Regions from separate parts of the Homo sapiens genome. Here region 1 is linked to region 2. Evidence: fine-mapped expression QTL. Tissue or cell type: uterus. Region 2 holds a variant in brackets; the other region holds the start of a gene. All regions are shown on one strand. Distances are from middle to middle.

Region 1 (8,091 bases), 53 kb before region 2:
ACCTTTCCTCTCCCCAGTACCAGTGCCTGCTGGTGCATTTTGGCCTCTGTGCCCAGTAGTATGGGGAAACTTTTTTTTTTTTTGAGATGGAGTCTCACTCTGTCACCCAGGCTGGAGTGCAGTGGTGCAATCTCGGCTCACTGCAACAACCTCTGCCTCCCAGGTTCAAGTGATTCTCCTGCCTCAGCCTCCCGAGTAACTGGGATTACAGGCACGCACCACCACACCCAGCTAATTTTGTATTTTTAGTGGAGACGGGGTTTCACCATGTCGGCCAGGCTGGTCTCGAACTCCTGACCTTAGGTGATCCACCTGCTTCGGCCTCCCAAAGTGCTGGGATTCCCAGGCTCACTGCTCTGCACCTGGCAGATGAAAATGGCAACCTGGGGCTCCCATGGATTCAAAGGAGCTGGGCTGCAGGCTGGGGGTGTACAGGCCACCTGCACCAAGCTCAGCCCAAAGCTGAGTCCCCGAAGAGCCTTGATATAAACACCAACACGACAAACAAAAAGAGGAGGCCCAAGAGCGCGGGGCCTGAAGACTCAAACCAGAGCCCTGCCTGGATGGGGCTGTGCTGTTTCAGATCGCAGTGGCCGGCCTCACCTGCTCCTCTCTGCACATCCTCATCAGGGTAAACTCACTCTCCCTCCTCTGCAGGGCAGCTGGAGCCACAGCTGGGAGCAGAGAGCAGGCCTAGGCCAGGCAGTTCTGCATTTGTGCCCTGCACACATCACACATTTGCGAGGGAGGCAGGAGAGGACCTCTCTGAGCATCAGTTTCCTCAGCTATATAATGGGCATCATCGTAGTCATCTCTTCCTAGGGCTTTTGTGAGATGAACTAAGATAACACACAGAAAGTGCTGGGCTCATCCTCACACTGAGCAGGAATTCTGCGTTCCAAGCTCCTGCAATTTCCATTTTCTCACCCAGCACACACAGTTGCCAGTCCTCCCTCCCGCTCCCCAGTGAGGCCTGAGGGACCCAAGTCACCTCTGCCCAGCCTGGCTCCCAGCCTAGTCTCACAAAACTGTGTTCCCTTTCCAGGGGCCCTTTGTGGGCCATGGAACCCTTGGCAGTCAGCTGATACCTAAGGTAATAGTATTAAACACTTAAAATGCTTACCAGCCAGGCACGGTGGCTCACACTTGTAATCCCGGTGCTTTGGGAGGCGGAGGTGGGAGGGTTGCTTGAGGCTAGGAGTTTGAGACCAGCCTAGACAATAAAGGGAGACCTTGACTCTACAAAAAAAAATTTAAAAAATCAGCTGGGCGCATGCCTGTGGTTCCAGCTACTCGGGAGGCTGAGACTGCAGGGAGCTATGATCACACCACTGCACTCCAGCCCGGACAACACAGCAAGACCCTGTCTTTATAAAAAATAATAATAACAAATAAAATGCTTAGATTAGCAAAGGAAAACAATCACATTAAAATATAGGCTGGGTGTGTTGGCATGCACCTGAAGTCCCAGCTACTCAGGAGGCTGAGGCAAGAGGATCAACTGAGCCCAGGAGTTCTGTATCAGCCTGGGCGACATAGAGAGACCCCATCTCTAATTAAAACAAATAAAAACGGCTATGAAAATATTTAAAAAACAAATATGTGATGTAGCAATGTAGACAAGCAATGTCTTCTTCATCAATGCGTTCAACAACAAGGTCAAGTAGTGGCGCTGATGAGACTGTAGTTTTTTTTTTTTTTTGAGACGGAGTCTTGCTCTGTCGCCCAGGCTGGAGTGCAGTGGTGCACATAAATGTGTGTTTGAGGCTGGGTGCAGTGGCTCAGCCTGTAATCCCAGCAATTTGGGAGGCCAAGTCAGGAAGATTGCCTAATCCCAAGAGTTCGAGACCAGCCTCTACACAAAATATAAAATTATCCCGGCATCGTAGTACGCACCGGTAATCCCAGTTACTTGGGAGGCTGAGGTAGGAGGATGGCTTGGAGCCCGAGAGGTCGAGGCTGCAATGAGCTATGATCGCTACACTCCAGCGACAGGGAGAGACCTTGTCTCAAAAAAAAAAAAAAAAAAAGTGTGTGTTTGGGTGAATGACTGATTGTCAGGCAGAAGCTGGTGACCCGTGGAGACATGGGGCCGCCGGAGGGGGGGAGGGATTGGTGATCCAGATACCCAAGGGGGCCCGGGGGCGGGGGGCGAAGGAGTGCGACTGGACCCGCACCTGGGCAACCGCGTCTCCAGCCTCCACGGCCCTGTCCCGCCCCCTTCCGGGCAGGCAGAGGCCCCGGGGCTGCCCTGCCGCCTGGGCCCGGCCCCCGCGGCAGCAGCCGAGCGGCCGCACCCCTTTGTGGGGCTGTCGTGCCGGGAGGGGCGCGGGCGAGGCGGGCCCGGGCGGCGCTGGGACTTGTAGGCCGGGAGCCCGGGCGCCTCCGGGCTGAAGCCCGTGGCCACGCCACCGACGCGGCTCCAGCCTGCCCAGGCAACGCGACGGCTGGGGACAGCCTTGGAAAAACTGAAGGGGAAACCGAGGCCTGGTGAAGGGATCCAGCTGGCGCAAAAGCACGCGGCCGCGCAGTGGCCGCCTCCCCCGGCCTCTAGGGGGCAAGTGAAGGTCACACTTAAATGAAAGTTTTCAAAGTCGCTTCGAAGGGCCTCCGGCTGGGCCAGAGCTTTCCCCCACCCCACCTTGTTCCATCGTGGATACACTCAACAAACATATCCCAGAGCCCTCTCCTTGCCAGGCCCTCCAGCTTGGGCAAAACATCCCAGGTCCCTGTTCTCGCAGCGCCCAAATAGCAGGGGAGGGGCTCCAGGCAGGCGAACACACAGGGCCGGGGAGGTGGGAAACTCCGCGAAGGAAGGAGAGGAAACCACGCGGGATGAAGGGCAACGGGGGCCGCAAGCGGGGGCAGGAGCGCCAGGAACGAGGAACGAAGGGGGAAGGGAGGAAAGGACGCCCAGGCTTCCGGAAGACTCGGGGGTCCCATCCCCACTGTGCAGAGGGCTAGAGCGGGAGCTGGGGGAGGGAGAGGTCAGAGGTCAAGGCTGCCGCGTGGAGCGTGGGCCGTGGAGTGGGGGAGGGGGCGGGCAGACTCCTCCCCGCCGGCAGCCAGGGCAGAGGGCTGGAGGAAACGCGGAGAACTCCTCGGTGCTGGAGGAAACGAGGGGAACTCCTCGCCGGCCTTGCGGTCCCCCACAGCCCACGGAGTGCCACTCCCAGTCCCCACAGACCCCACCTGCGTCGCCCTGTGCTGAGAGGAGGCCGCAGGGCTGGGGCCGGGAGTGACCCCAATTAGAGCTGCTGTTTCCCAGCTGCATAGGTCCCAACCGCGGGGGCTGGAGATGAGGCGGGCTTGAGGCCCCTAGTCCCGGCTTCAGAGGTGGAGGGTGTGACCCGCAGGTCCGGGATCCCGGGGTCTGTGCAGTCACACGGCCCTTCCCTTCGCTCAGGAAAGCCCGGGGCTGAGTTTCATGCTCAACCGCTGCCAACTTGAAATTCCTAGCTTTTGAATAAGGGGCCCCGCGTTTGCATTTTGCACTGGGCCCCGAAAATTCTGTGGCTGGCCCTGCCTGGTGTGAAGCTCACAGAGCCCCACTATGCGCCGCCTTTCTATGGCTGGGGGCCGGATGAGGGACCCGGGTCTGCTCTTACTCGCCCCAAGGGTCCCTGACACCAGCCCAGAACGGGGTGGAGCTGGAAAGAGCCCACACCTGCTTCCTCTGCCCACCTCATCTCCCGCGGGGCCTCTGAGACCGCCCGGGACCCGCTTCTATCGCGGCACCGTGGTGTAGCTCCCTCCGGGGTCGTATGCTGTATGTTTACTAGCCGAATTCTCAGTCCTGGACGCTCCGTGGGGCCAGGGAATATGATCTGTGCTCCGCTGCAGCCTCGCGCCCAGAGTAAATATCGGTCGGATGAACTAATCTTACATATAAAACAGAAATCATTTCCCTTTTTTAATATGGCACGTGGCTCTTCCCTAAGTCGCCCTGGGTTAAATACCGACTCAATTAACAAGATGCTAAAAACCGTTTACGTTTTTTTACGTTTTTTACGTTTAATTCACCAGACGGTGCGCTCCACGAGGGAAGGGGCCTGGCCTCCCTAGTTCAGGGTTGTGCTTAGTGCCTGCAACCGGCCGGGCCCGCGGGGGCAGCCAGGAGAGAAAGGCGCGCCCAGCGCCCCCAGGCCCGGATCCGCCCTCAGCCCGCGTGCGCTCCCCTCCCCCCTCCCCCCAATCGCCGCGCGCCCGGGTGCGGCTGGGCGGGGTTAGAACTACGCTTCCCGGCGGTCCCCGCGCGCCCGGGGCGGGGCGGGGCCGGCTGGGGGCGGGGCTGAGCTGGCGGGGGCGGCAGGCTACAAAGCCCGGGGGCGGTGCCGGGGCGCAGAGTCCCCGCAGCGCCGGTCGGGAGCGCAGCGCGGCGCACGTCGGCGCGCACGGCGGGACGGGCGCCGGAGTGGTCGGGCCTGGCGGCTGGACGGGCGCCCCTCGCTGCCCCGCGCGCTCCCCGCCGCCCCCCATGAGCGCAGCCCCGCGCGGCCCGGGTCCGTAGGCGGCGGGGCGCCCCCCATGCTGCTGCAGCCCGCGCCGTGCGCCCCGAGCGCGGGCTTCCCGCGGCCCCTGGCCGCCCCCGGCGCCATGCACGGCTCGCAGAAGGACACCACGTTCACCAAGATCTTCGTGGGCGGCCTGCCGTACCACACTACCGACGCCTCGCTCAGGAAGTACTTCGAGGGCTTCGGCGACATCGAGGAGGCCGTGGTCATCACCGACCGCCAGACGGGCAAGTCCCGCGGCTACGGCTTCGTAAGTGGCCCCCGCGCCCGGGCCCGCACCCCGCCGCACACCTTATCGCGGCCCGGGCGCCGAGTCCACTCCGGGGCACACGCCCAGACGGCCCGCTGCCGCCCCCGCCCCAGGCGCCTCCAGCCGGCGCCCGCACCTGCCGCCTCTCCCGGGCGCGCTCCTGCCGGTCCCGCCCCCACCACCCCAGGCCCCGGCCCCCACCCCCACCCCCACCCCCACCCCCACCCCCGGTTTAAAAGGAAGAGCCGCTGTGTTCAATTAGGACTCCTAAGTTGGTGGGGAGGTTTTGGAGCCAGAGGGCACTCGGGATTTCCTGGAGCAGCGGGGGGTGAGGAGCAATGGCTCCACCCCGGGGTGTTAGGAGCTCTTCGGCCTCCCCCATATTTTTAACAGCCCTCTCAGCCGCCCCAAATAAACATCAGCTTAAGTAAAAACGTCTTGAAGACACTTTCCTGCTTACCTTCCAAGCATAGCGTCGCAAACTCCTTCTCAGAGGAAAGTCTCGGCCCTCACTGGTGGGCAAGTCCAGGCGGCCCCCCAAGCTCCCTTCGGGGTTCATTTTTGCCCTATCCCCGCAGGGGATTATTTTTGTCCTTGAAGGCCACATTTCCCAGGCCTTGAACTTTGACGGGAGGAGCTGGAATCCAGGAGGCATCTTTGTGGGAGAGCCCCAGGTAGGGTTCAGAGGAGCTTTGGCTCAAGGACCCTGGGTCACAGGCACCCTCAGAGGAAGGGAAGAGAGGGGTGGCAGCATCCGGTGCCAGGGCGGAGCCGTCTGCCCCTTTCGCCCCTGGTTCCCCCCACGGCAGCCCCTGATGTGTCTCTGCTCCACCAGGTGACCATGGCCGACCGGGCGGCAGCTGAGAGGGCTTGCAAAGACCCGAACCCCATCATCGACGGCCGCAAGGCCAACGTGAACCTGGCATATCTGGGCGCCAAGCCGCGGAGCCTCCAGACGGGTGAGAGCTTGTGTTTTCCTGCCTGGCTCTTCTCGGTTTCTATATTGGGTGTCGGTATCTGTCGGGTGGAAAGAGGCCCCCCCTCCTCGCCCCAGCAGTGGCAGTCGGCTATCATGTGCCTGCAGAGCCGGCACAGGGCAGCCATCCCCCCCTCGAGGATCTAGACCCCTTCTCACAGCGTGTGGCCCAAAGAAGGGGGCGGGGGGCAGGGAGGGTACTGCACCCCAGTTGCCAGCTGTCCTCGCAGGAGGGAGGAAGTGGCCATGGGGCCTGGAGGTTGGGAGTGCCGACACCAGTGGCTGCTGACACCTGCGTCACTCACTGCCACACTTCAGCGGTGTGCCTTGGGGTTCACAAGGGGGAGGCCTGGGAGGGGAGAGGAAGCGGATGATCCCTTTTGACTAGAGGTGTGTGGCTTGTGGGATTCTGCCACCCTGTGTGCAGCCCTTGAGACGTGGCTCGTGCAGCAAGGCCAAGTCCCTGATTGTTCTCTCGTTTTAGGCTTTGCCATTGGGGTGCAGCAGCTGCACCCCACCTTGATCCAGCGGACTTACGGGTGAGTGGACATGGCTGGCTTGGGGTGGGTAGTCCGTGGAGATGAAGTGGAGAGGGCCTTGGGCTTCCTGGGTCTGGAAGGCTGGGGAAATGACAGTTTTCAGACATTTGATTGCGTTTAAGCCAAGGGAGTGAAGAGAAGGCAGATTGCACTTCTCCATCCCTGGCAGAGGCCATACCACCTAGGGGATGGTGAGCCTTGGAGCCTGCCTGCCTTGGTACACACCCCAGCTCCCTTCGCTAGGTGTGTGGCCTCAGTTTCCTCACCCGTAAAATGGGAGTGGTCACAGCACATCTGAGTTCTCTGAATGGAGGGCCTAGGGTGGGCCTGGTGCAGGTAACGCCCTCTTGAAGTGTTTGCTGATGACTCTTAGGGACTGGCAGGCTGAGTTCTTCCCCAGGCACTCCTCTCACCTGTTCTAGTGCTGGGGCAGGTGGTGGCAGTAGGTCATTGCTACCAAGGTCTGATGTTTGTGAACGTTGCTGTAGATACGATGTGTTTGGGGTGGAGGCCACCTGCCTGAGTGGCCTGGCCTATGGGCTTCTAGTCTGACTCATTTACAAGCAGCGCAGCCCACTCTTCTCCATCCTAAAACGCCTCCCACCTCCCTGCCCTTTTTTAAAACATCTAGTAAGTCCTGGCAGCTGCTTGGGGAGGGACACACACACTTAAGGGATACAAAGAGTCCTGCCTTGCGGCCTGCCTCCCCACCCCCATGATGGATGGAAGCTGTCTGCCCTAGCGCCGTGGCATATTGATGGGGTTGGAGTTGGAGGGGAAGGCAGCTCAGAGACCACCACCCCTTTCAGGGCATTGGCACTTCATGAACTTTCTGAATCCAAATCCCTAATGCCAGTTGATCACGTGTGTGTGCTCACGCATGTGCGCACCACGTAGATTCCATTGAGAGAGACACAGCTTGAGGAGTAACCTGCCTGACTGGGGCAGTGTGGACAAGGATCCTGTGGAACCCGGCTGAGCCTGGCTCCCAGGTGAATGGGTCCCCTGGGGCCTGGCTCCCAGGTGAATGGGTCAGAGGCCCCAGCAGAAGTTGCTGTGCCCACTTTTTGGGAACGCTTGGGGTGACTCGGGGGCTCCCTGCCGGCTTCCGTGTGTATTGGTGGATGTGTGCAAGTGTAGCAGTGGGAGGAGCCGCTGGCTGAGGGGTGCTGGAGGGTGGCCGGGGCCCTTCTAGCCTGTGCGAGTGGCCGGGCAGCTCAGGTTCCTGCCGGGGTGCCTCTGTCCTCCTGGGAAGGGAGCGTGTAGGGTGGTGGGAGCAGGCGGCCCTGTCCGTCTCGTCCTGGAATCTGTTTTGTAGATGTCTAGAGTCGTCTTAGAGGGTGTTTGGGGACACTGTAGCCTTCATGCCTTCACCGAGATTCTTCCTATGGGGTTCAGGCCACATGAAGAGGGTGTTCCTTGTTTTCCAGAACCTTGGCTCCATTCCCCAGGCCCACAGCAGGCGCCTGGGGGCATGGACTGGGCGGGAGCAGCTGCCCAGAGGTGAGGGTGTGTGCCTCCAGTGCCTGCAGCTCTTTTCTGCTTACAGTGGGATAAGGCCTTCCCACGTGCGTCTGGGCTCGCTCTGATCCACACAGCTACCTCTGGGACTCCATACCCATCAGTGCTTGGCCTCTGGGGCCTGCAGAGGTGGGTTCGAATCCTGACTTTGCCCCTTACCAGCTGGGTCTGTCTTGGCAGTGGCATCCTCATCCGGAAAACAGGAACATTAACTGCTTAAAACAGTGCACAGGCATGTGGGCTGGGTGCTCTGGCCTCCTCAGAAGTCCTCTCCTGTCCTCATAGCAGGCC
Region 2 (8,091 bases):
GGCATGAGAGGAGCATCTGAGTCCTTGGTCTCTGTGAGGCATGAATGAGGGGACAGAGATGAAGTCTGTTCAGTGCACTTGGCCAGCAGCAGGACTCGGGGCCTGGCAGCTCCCCTGATGGCACCCTGGGGGCACTCCTCCCCACTGTTTCCTCCCTGAGGCCTGAGGACCCCATGGGCGGTGGGTGCTGCTCCACGCTCCACACAGACCAGGAAGCCAAGCTTGGGGCCACCCCCACTGCCTTCTCCCGGGCACCACTGCCCACGGCTGGCCTCTCCTCAGGCCACAGGTCTGGCCTGGCTGCCCGAACTCTCAGCCTGGAGGCAGCTGAAGCGTCACATGCCCTTGGCCAGCCGTCTCCGGGGGGGCGGGTTCCCCTCGGGAGACTTCAGCACATTGTCAAAGCTGTCAAACAATTTCCCTGCCAGGTTTTTGCAGGAATCCAAGGCCTCGCTCCCAATGCCAAACACCCTCTTAAGACGATATCTCCGGGGCCTGCAGGCCTGCTCAGCGGCGCTGCCTCTCCTCGGCCTTATATAGTCAAAAGCCGGGGAATCCCTGTCCCACCCTGGGCTGGGATCTGATGGAAGCTGCCACAGCCTTGGCCTGACCCCGGGATCTCCCGCCTCCAAATCGGCCATCTCTGGCCAAGGGGCCGGGTGAGAGGCCTGGCATGCGCACAGGCCTGCGCGGGGCTCTGGGTGTCCCATCAGCTGGCAGCTGGAGCGGCCAGGCCAGCACAGGCTCTTACCAAATAAGGCCTGGGCAGCTGGGCTTGGCCAGGCTCAGACGGCGGCAGCTGGGCCAGCAGTAGCAGGCCTGCCTGTCTCCTCCTCCCGCACTGCCCTGCCTGCCCAGCAAAGACTCTGCAGACTGTGGTCCCCTCGACTCAAGGGAGAGCTCCACCCTAAGAAGCCTGGGTAGACGGTCCCGGATCCCCTGCCAGACGCGCTGCCATGAGGAACCTCTGGCAAATTTCCATTGGGAACCTTGAGGGAAGGCAAGGTGGAGAAACATTCCTAGGACTCCCGCTGCTGCAACGGGAGCCCCGAGCCAGGCCAAGAAATGACCTGTCCCTCCCCCAGGACCCCGCTCCCACTCCTGCATCCCCCAGGGTGTTCCGATTTGGATGTTGCTTGTCCCACCAGTCAGCCCCTTCCTGGTGCCTGGTCTTTGGGGCCAAAGGGCAAGGCTGGCCAAGCGGTTTGGGAAGCGGGCCCGGGCTCAGGAGCACACTGAGGGCCCTTGGGCAGTGACCTGCCCTCCAACTGTGGCTATGATGAGGAAGGCGCATGCGTGCTGGTTGAGGAGGGAAGACCCCCATGACCATGAGCCAGTGTGGGCAGAGGAATGGGCAGGGGGAGGGGCAGGGGGCAGGTCCTCCCTTAGGAGCCACTACGGGGCATGAGGCTCCTGTGTCTGCTCGCCTTGGTTCCAGCCAGCAGCTTTGGCTCTTGGAGCCTCAGTTTTGCTATCCTTAAAATGGGTGTGATACAAACGCTATCTCAGGGTGGCAGCGGGAGTTCAAGGGGACAAGATGCACACCTCTCAGGGCCCTGCAGGGAGTTCCTGGAAGATTGACAGCAGGGCGAGGGAGGGATCTCTCCTTTCCTCGGAGATGGGGGAGGCAAGGGCTCTCTTTCTGTCCCTGACACCCCCTCCTCAGCTCCTCCTGCCCTCCCTGCTGTCTCATTATCTTAGGTGTGATGGGGGCATGGTGAGGCCTCCCAGCCACTCCCAGTGCTGGAAGTGCAGGCGTGGGGTGACCAGCTATTGCACATGTGACTGCATGGCTGTGTGTGTACGCATGTCCCTCCCAACCCCTATTAGCACAACCATGGGAACGTGACCGTGCAGCCCAACAGCCAGGGCGCGGGATACTCGAGAGGGTGGCCCCGGCCTGGGGATGTCTGTGGTTCTGCTGCTGCTCATTTCTGAAGCCCCTTCATGAGTTCTGGGACTCCTGGGGGGATGGGGCCCACTTATGAGTCCCTCAGAGGCATTCAGTGCAAAGTAAAAATGTGGCCCCCCCTCCAAACGTTCAAAAACGACGAAGACTTTTAAGACGACAACAGCAGAGCATTAAACCAACAGGCGGCCCTTCTGAGTGTGAGGGTCCCTCTGCGACTGCACAGGTCACACCCCATGCAGCCGGCCCTGTCCCCTCTGCCCCTCTGCAGCTCAGGTGGGCGGGGCCTGACCACTCCAGCCTGGTCACTCCAGCCTGGCCTTAGACTCTGAGGTGAGTGGTGCCAGGACCTGCCGGTCAGCCTGGATTCATCATAGCCTCTGTTGTCCAGTAGGCTTGGCAAGAAGGGTCTGTGGAAGTTTATAAAAGTGACACCCCCCAGCCCCCAACCTGGGGAGCAGCCAGGAGCCCTATGTCAGAATGTGCGGCCCCTAATGAAAGTGCTCTTCCAGCCACTCTATTTAAGCCAGGTGAGTTTGTTCTCAGGGACTGGAGGCCGGCAAGGTAATGCAGCTGTTTTTAGCGTTTTAGCAGGAGGCAGGTGCTGGCCAGGACGCCTGTGACGCTGTGGGTGACGATGGCCATGACCCGGACACATACAGGTTGGGCAACCTGGGCAGAGCTGGTGTGCCTGGAGGTGGGGCGGGGGGGGTGCCTGGAAGACTGGTGTGGCCTGGATGTCCTGAGAGCGCCAGAACCTCTCCTTGGGGCTCCCTGGGTGGCTACCACCTTTGACTCTTGCCCTAGGGGCACACACTGCCACCTTTCCAGAAAGTTCTCTGGGATCTACAGAAACTGACCACCCATCCAGGTGCTTGAACGTGTCAACTGGTAACTTGCAGCTGTTCTGTTGGAACCTCTGAGATTCCAAGCAGAATTGCTCAGAACCTTCCGGATGCCCCACATGACATCCGCTCCCTCAGGGATAGACAGGGTTCGGCTGCTCATCGGGGTCTCCCAGAGCCTGGAACAGCGCTGTCCTAGAAGCCGTGAACAACCATCCTGCAAAGCTGGAGAAGCAGGGCATTTCCCCGCTGACACGCTCAGGACCAGGAGCTGGTGTGCGTCAAAGTCAGCACCAAGGCCGGTCCATGGCCTGTGAAATACTCGTCCCTCAAGATTGCATTTCAATGGAAAGACTGGCATTTCCCATTCATTCACCTATTTTTTGATGGAGGAAAAAGGTCTTTCTGAGTGGGGTGGGGTGCTCTGCTGCTTGGGGTGGTCCCCTCATCTTCCTTGCATAACCCACATCTCCAGTGTATCTTGTGCCTTTGCAGTTTCTCTTTCTTTGAAATGGAAGAGAGAAAGAATATGCTCCCAGAGACGGTAACTGGAGAGCTTCGGAGCAGACTTTTATACTCTAAAGTAAACTTGTCCTTTTCATTAATTAACTAACAGAGATTTATTTGGTGTGGACCTCACGCCACAGCCTGTGCTGGATGCTGAGAACAGAGGAAAAATGAGCCCAGGGAAATTGTGCCTGAGTGCAGCTAGGTCAGTTTTCTGTTTTACAAATGCAGGAACCAAGGCTCAGAGAGGGTGTGTGAATCACCTAAGGCCACACAGCGCCTGTGTGACAGGCTTTGGCCTGTAAGGGGAAAGCCGGCTAGAAGAGATGAGAAAATGGGGTGTCATTCACCAGCAAAACTGGGTTCAAATCCGCCTCTGGGACCTTGGGTAGGACCGGCCTGCCAAACACAAATGCATATCTGATTGTTCCCCTACCCCATTTTGTCTGTGTTATCTTATGTAAAATGCAGATTCCCCCATCCTTCCTTTATCCCTTTTGTTTATGTGGGTCCCCTCAAGCTTTAAGGGCTGTGCTCTGCTATAAGCTAGCCAACTTCTTGGAGCCTCAGTTTCTCATTTGTCAATGGGAACAATTACTGCTGGTTCCTGCGGTCACTCAGCAAATATTTGTTAAGCACCTACTAGGTGCCATGCAGCATTGTAGGCACTGGGATATAGCTGTGAGCCAAACACCCAGCACAGGGCTGATGTGGGAGCTGATGGGGTGGTGCAGCGGGCCTGGTCTGGGCTCCCTCAGCGAGCCAGGCCCAGGGCGCCCCAGGGCAACAGGGCTGCACTGCAGGTAGACTCAGCTTGGCAGATCCCTGGCCCTGGGGGCCGTCACATGGGGGCCAGGCCAGGGGCGTGTGGGAGCGGAAAGAGGATGGAGGGCAGGAAGGAGGGAGAAAGAGGGAGAAGAGAGGAGGGCACTCTCCTCATCCCCATCCTTCTCCAAAGAAGAAATGACGGCATCGTGCTCTCACCGACTCATCGTCCTAGTAGGTCCTTAGGACACCCAGCAAGCCAGACCTCCGTGTGACAGATGAGGAAACTGAGGCTCAAGGGTGACGTCACTTGCCTAGGATCACAGAATTCCCGAGGGGGATCTAGGCAGTCTCCCTCCACAGCCCAGTCTCTTCCCTTCGGACGCAATAAAAAAAGAGGGAAGGGGAGAGAATGATGGAAGGGGGGAGGAGGGAGGGGCAGCAGGAGGTGTGGGAAGCAGGAGGGGGAAGAGGCCCCTGGGAGGCTTTCTGGGCCCTGCCTTATTTTCCCCTCCCTCCTCCTCCTCCTCCTCTTCCTCCTCCTCCTCCTCCTCCTTCTCCTCCTCCTCCTTCTTTGAGACAGAGTCTCGCTCTGTTGCCCAGGCTGGAGTGCAGTGGCACGATCTCGGCTCACTGCAACCTCTGCCTCCCGGGTTCAAGCAATTCTCCTGCCTCAGCCTCCTGAGTAGCTGGGACTACTCAGCTCATTTTCGTAGTTTCAGTAGAGATGGGGTTTCACCATGTCGACCAGGCTGGTCTCGAACTCCATCCCCGCTTCTCCGGGGGCTTTTGCTCCTAGGGACTCGGGCTCAGCTGAGCTCCTGTGGCAAGTCCTGTGGGACTGGCATGGAAGACTCCTGGGCATGTGGTGGCTATGACTCTTCCCTGATGATGGTGGCCGCACCTTGGGATTGGCTTCTCCTCTCCGAGTCAGGGACCTGGCATTTTTGGCAGCCCTTGGGGGCTATTTTTAAACCTCACAGCTG[G/A]TTTTCATCATGGCTGCTGATAGGTACGTGTAGAAACATTGGCTCTTGCCAGCATTCTGAACAAACCTTGAAAACGAGCAGGGTTGGAGCGGATCAAAGTAGGGGCTCAGGGAAACCTGAAGTGGCAGCCAGTGCTTTGTCCCCACCCAGACCCTTGTAAGGGTAGGAGATGAAAGAGCACGGCTCAGGGGATGAAAGGAGGTGCCAGGGCAGGAGAGAGCCAGGGATTAGGCACGTTCCCTAGAAGATGTAGCTGAATGTTGGGACACAAGAGAAGGGCTCTTTAGCAGCTAGAGCCCTGTTATCCTCATTTTCCTTCTGGGAGGCAGCAAAATACAGAGGTTGAGAGCATGGATTCTGGAGTCCCACAAACCCGACTCCTGCCTTGAGTCCTGACTCAGCCTTTAACAGTTGTGTGACTGTGAGTGTATCAGTTAGCTACTGCTATGTAACAAATCGTCCCAAAACCTAGTTGCTTAAAACATGATTCTATGAGTTGACAATTTAGCCTGAACCATCAGTTGGATGGTTCTGGTGTGGGCTGGCATCCCTCATGCATTTTTGCAGTCAGCTGCCAGGTCTGCAGGAAGCTCTGACTATCATCTAGGGTGATGGGAACAACTGGTCTCTCATTCTCCAGCAGACCGTTCTCCTGATGGAGACAGGGGTCTGAGAGAGAGAGAGAAGAAACCTGCAAGGCAGTTTGGGGTCTTAGATTTGGCACGGTATCACTTCCAGCAATTCTGTTGGCCAAAGCAAGTCACAAGACCAACCTGACTCAAGAGTTTGGAAACCACCTCTGCCTTTTGATGGGAAGAGCTGCAAAACCATTTTGCAAAGGGCGTGGATACAAGGAAGGATGAATTTAGGTCATTTTATACAAATCTGTGTACCACACTGGGTACCTATATACCTCTCTGAGCCTCAGTTTCCTCATTTGTAACATGTGAATGGTTTGGCTTGTCAATCGGAGAAAACGATGAGACAAGTCTCAATCATTTTTGGAGATTTATTTGCCAAAGTTAAGGACGCACCTGGGAGACAGGTCTATGTCTTTCTCTGAAGATGATTTTGGGGGCTCCAAATTTAAAGGAGAAAGGGTGGGATATTGAGAAACACACAGTTTTCACATAAACAAAAGGGATAAAGGAAAGATGGGGGAATCTGCATTTTACATAAGATAACACAGACAAAATGGGGTAGGGGAACAATCAGATATGCACATGGGTCTGGCAGGCAGGGGTGACTGCACCTAAATAAAAGCTATAAATTGTTGTGAGAACTAAATAAGGTGAGGTATGTAAAGTCGCCAGCATAGTGCCTCATGCAGAGTAAGTGTTGATTCCTTGAGAGGAGGCTTACTTCTTGTCACCCCCTACCCCACTATCCCTGTGAAACACGACCTAGGAGGTCAGCTGCTCTCTGGAGAAATGCTGTCTAAAAAGGCAATCTGTAGTTGCAAGAAACCCACCAGGACTGGGAGCCTTTTGGTAAATATTTCTTTCACCCTCTGCTTCAGTGATAGAAACAGTAAGTCCCAGTTAAGCAGGATCAAAGTTTATCAGGCATCAGGACACACTGACTGCTGTCTTTCTGTCCTTCAGGCCATTCAGGTGTCTTCGCTCTTTCATTCAACAACATCAAGCACCTACTGTGTGCCAGGTGCCGTATTAAGTGTAGAGGACAGAGTGGTACTAAAAGACAACACAGTCCTTGCTGCCAAGGAGCCAACAGTTATAATGACAGCAACACACACCAGTTCAGGTCTATGTCCCTGTAATAAGGTAAGAACTTCAGGTCACAATCCAGATAATAAATATGGCATTGGTTTATTGTTCTTACTATCAACAGAATTGTGATTGGATCCTTATCCCACTAGGCTGGGTGGGGAGCTTAATCTCAGGCTGTCTCATATTCTAGTTGCTAATAATAACATCCAAGCCTCCTTAATAGCTCACTTATATTGAGGGGTTACTAAATGCTGGCCCCAGGGCAGGTCTTTCTTTCTTTTTTTTTGAGACAGGGTCTTGCTCATTGACCAGGCTGGAGTGCAGTGGCAAGATCACCTCTCACTGCAGCCTGGACCTCCTAGGCTCAAGCCATCCTCCCACCTCAGCCTCCCAAGTAGCTGGGACTACAGGCATGCACCACCACACCCAGCTAATTTTTTTTTTGAGATGGGGTTTCACCTTATTATCCAGGCTGGTTTTGAATTCCTAGGCTCAAGCCTTCTGCCCACCTCTGCCTCCCGAAGTGTTGGGATTACTGGTGTGAGCAACTGCGCCCGGCTGTAGGTCAGGTCTTTACAAGCATTTCATCCTCTTGCAGCAATCTGATGAAAGCATTTAGGGAGCCCAGGAAGGGAGGCAATGGCGATCTGGAAGGATGAGCTGCTTGTCCTAGGATATACAGCTATGAAGTTTTTAACCGAGGTCTGGTTGGATTAGGGAGGGGACCTCTGCCATGGGGCAGTCATGACAGGTGCGGGGCGCCATCGTCTCCTCCAAGGGTGAGGCGTCTCCTTGAGGTGGGGTTTACCCCATGGTTTCTGTTCTTGGGTGGCAGGGCCCTGAACTCCCGGGTGGGTGTTTCACCCTGGGAGGTGGCAGGGGTAGGGACAGGGTGTCTAAATCTCAGCAGAAACATCAGACGTGGCCACCAAGAATCAGCTAGATCATCCAGAGCAGCAGGCACAGCTTTAAGTGCACACGTCCACAGGCCTGGATGTTGTTTTAACATTTAATTTGGTCCAGCATCAGCCAGCTAAACCTGCTCCTTATCCTCGGCCTGGCTGGCAGCTGCCCTTCAGGGAGCTAAACCGACTCCTGCGAGTGAGCGGCCAGGCCTTTTCGGGAGCCTTCCAGGTGTAACTCTGGGGAGGGTCCACATACCTCAGTCACTCACCCACTTTTCACACCCATGCACACTTACCTGTGTACATTCACAGACACACTCACACACTACTTTTGTTTTTTTTTAGAGATGGGATCTCATCTCACTATGTTGCCAGGCTGGTCTCGAACATCTGGCCTCTAGTGATCCTCCCACCTTGGCCTCCCAAAGTCCTAGGATTTCAGGC

What was found. PIP is the estimated chance that this variant, and not a neighbour inherited with it, causes the effect.
Region 1: RBM38 starts here. The variant in region 2 is fine-mapped to the expression of RBM38 in uterus (GTEx, PIP above 0.99).

What each region holds. Positions count from the first base shown.
Region 1 is chr20:57,387,055-57,395,145 of GRCh38, forward strand. It overlaps RBM38 (RNA binding motif protein 38), which reads left to right and starts at 4,342. Exons shown (of 4, transcript NM_017495.6): 1 at 4,342-4,764; 2 at 5,600-5,723; 3 at 6,225-6,279. The coding sequence starts at 4,528. It overlaps RBM38-AS1 (RBM38 antisense RNA 1), which reads right to left and starts at 6,002. Exons shown (of 2, transcript NR_149006.1): 1 at 5,225-6,002. RefSeq lists silencers at 2,035-2,414, 4,025-4,424, 4,775-4,964 and enhancers at 4,059-4,560, 4,561-5,060, 5,815-6,004.
Region 2 is chr20:57,440,531-57,448,621 of GRCh38, forward strand. No RefSeq gene overlaps it. Among named protein-coding and RNA genes, the nearest start is that of RBM38-AS1, 52 kb to the left of the region's middle. RefSeq lists enhancers at 1-3,707, 659-1,518. The variant G/A (reference allele first, on the strand shown) is at 5,013.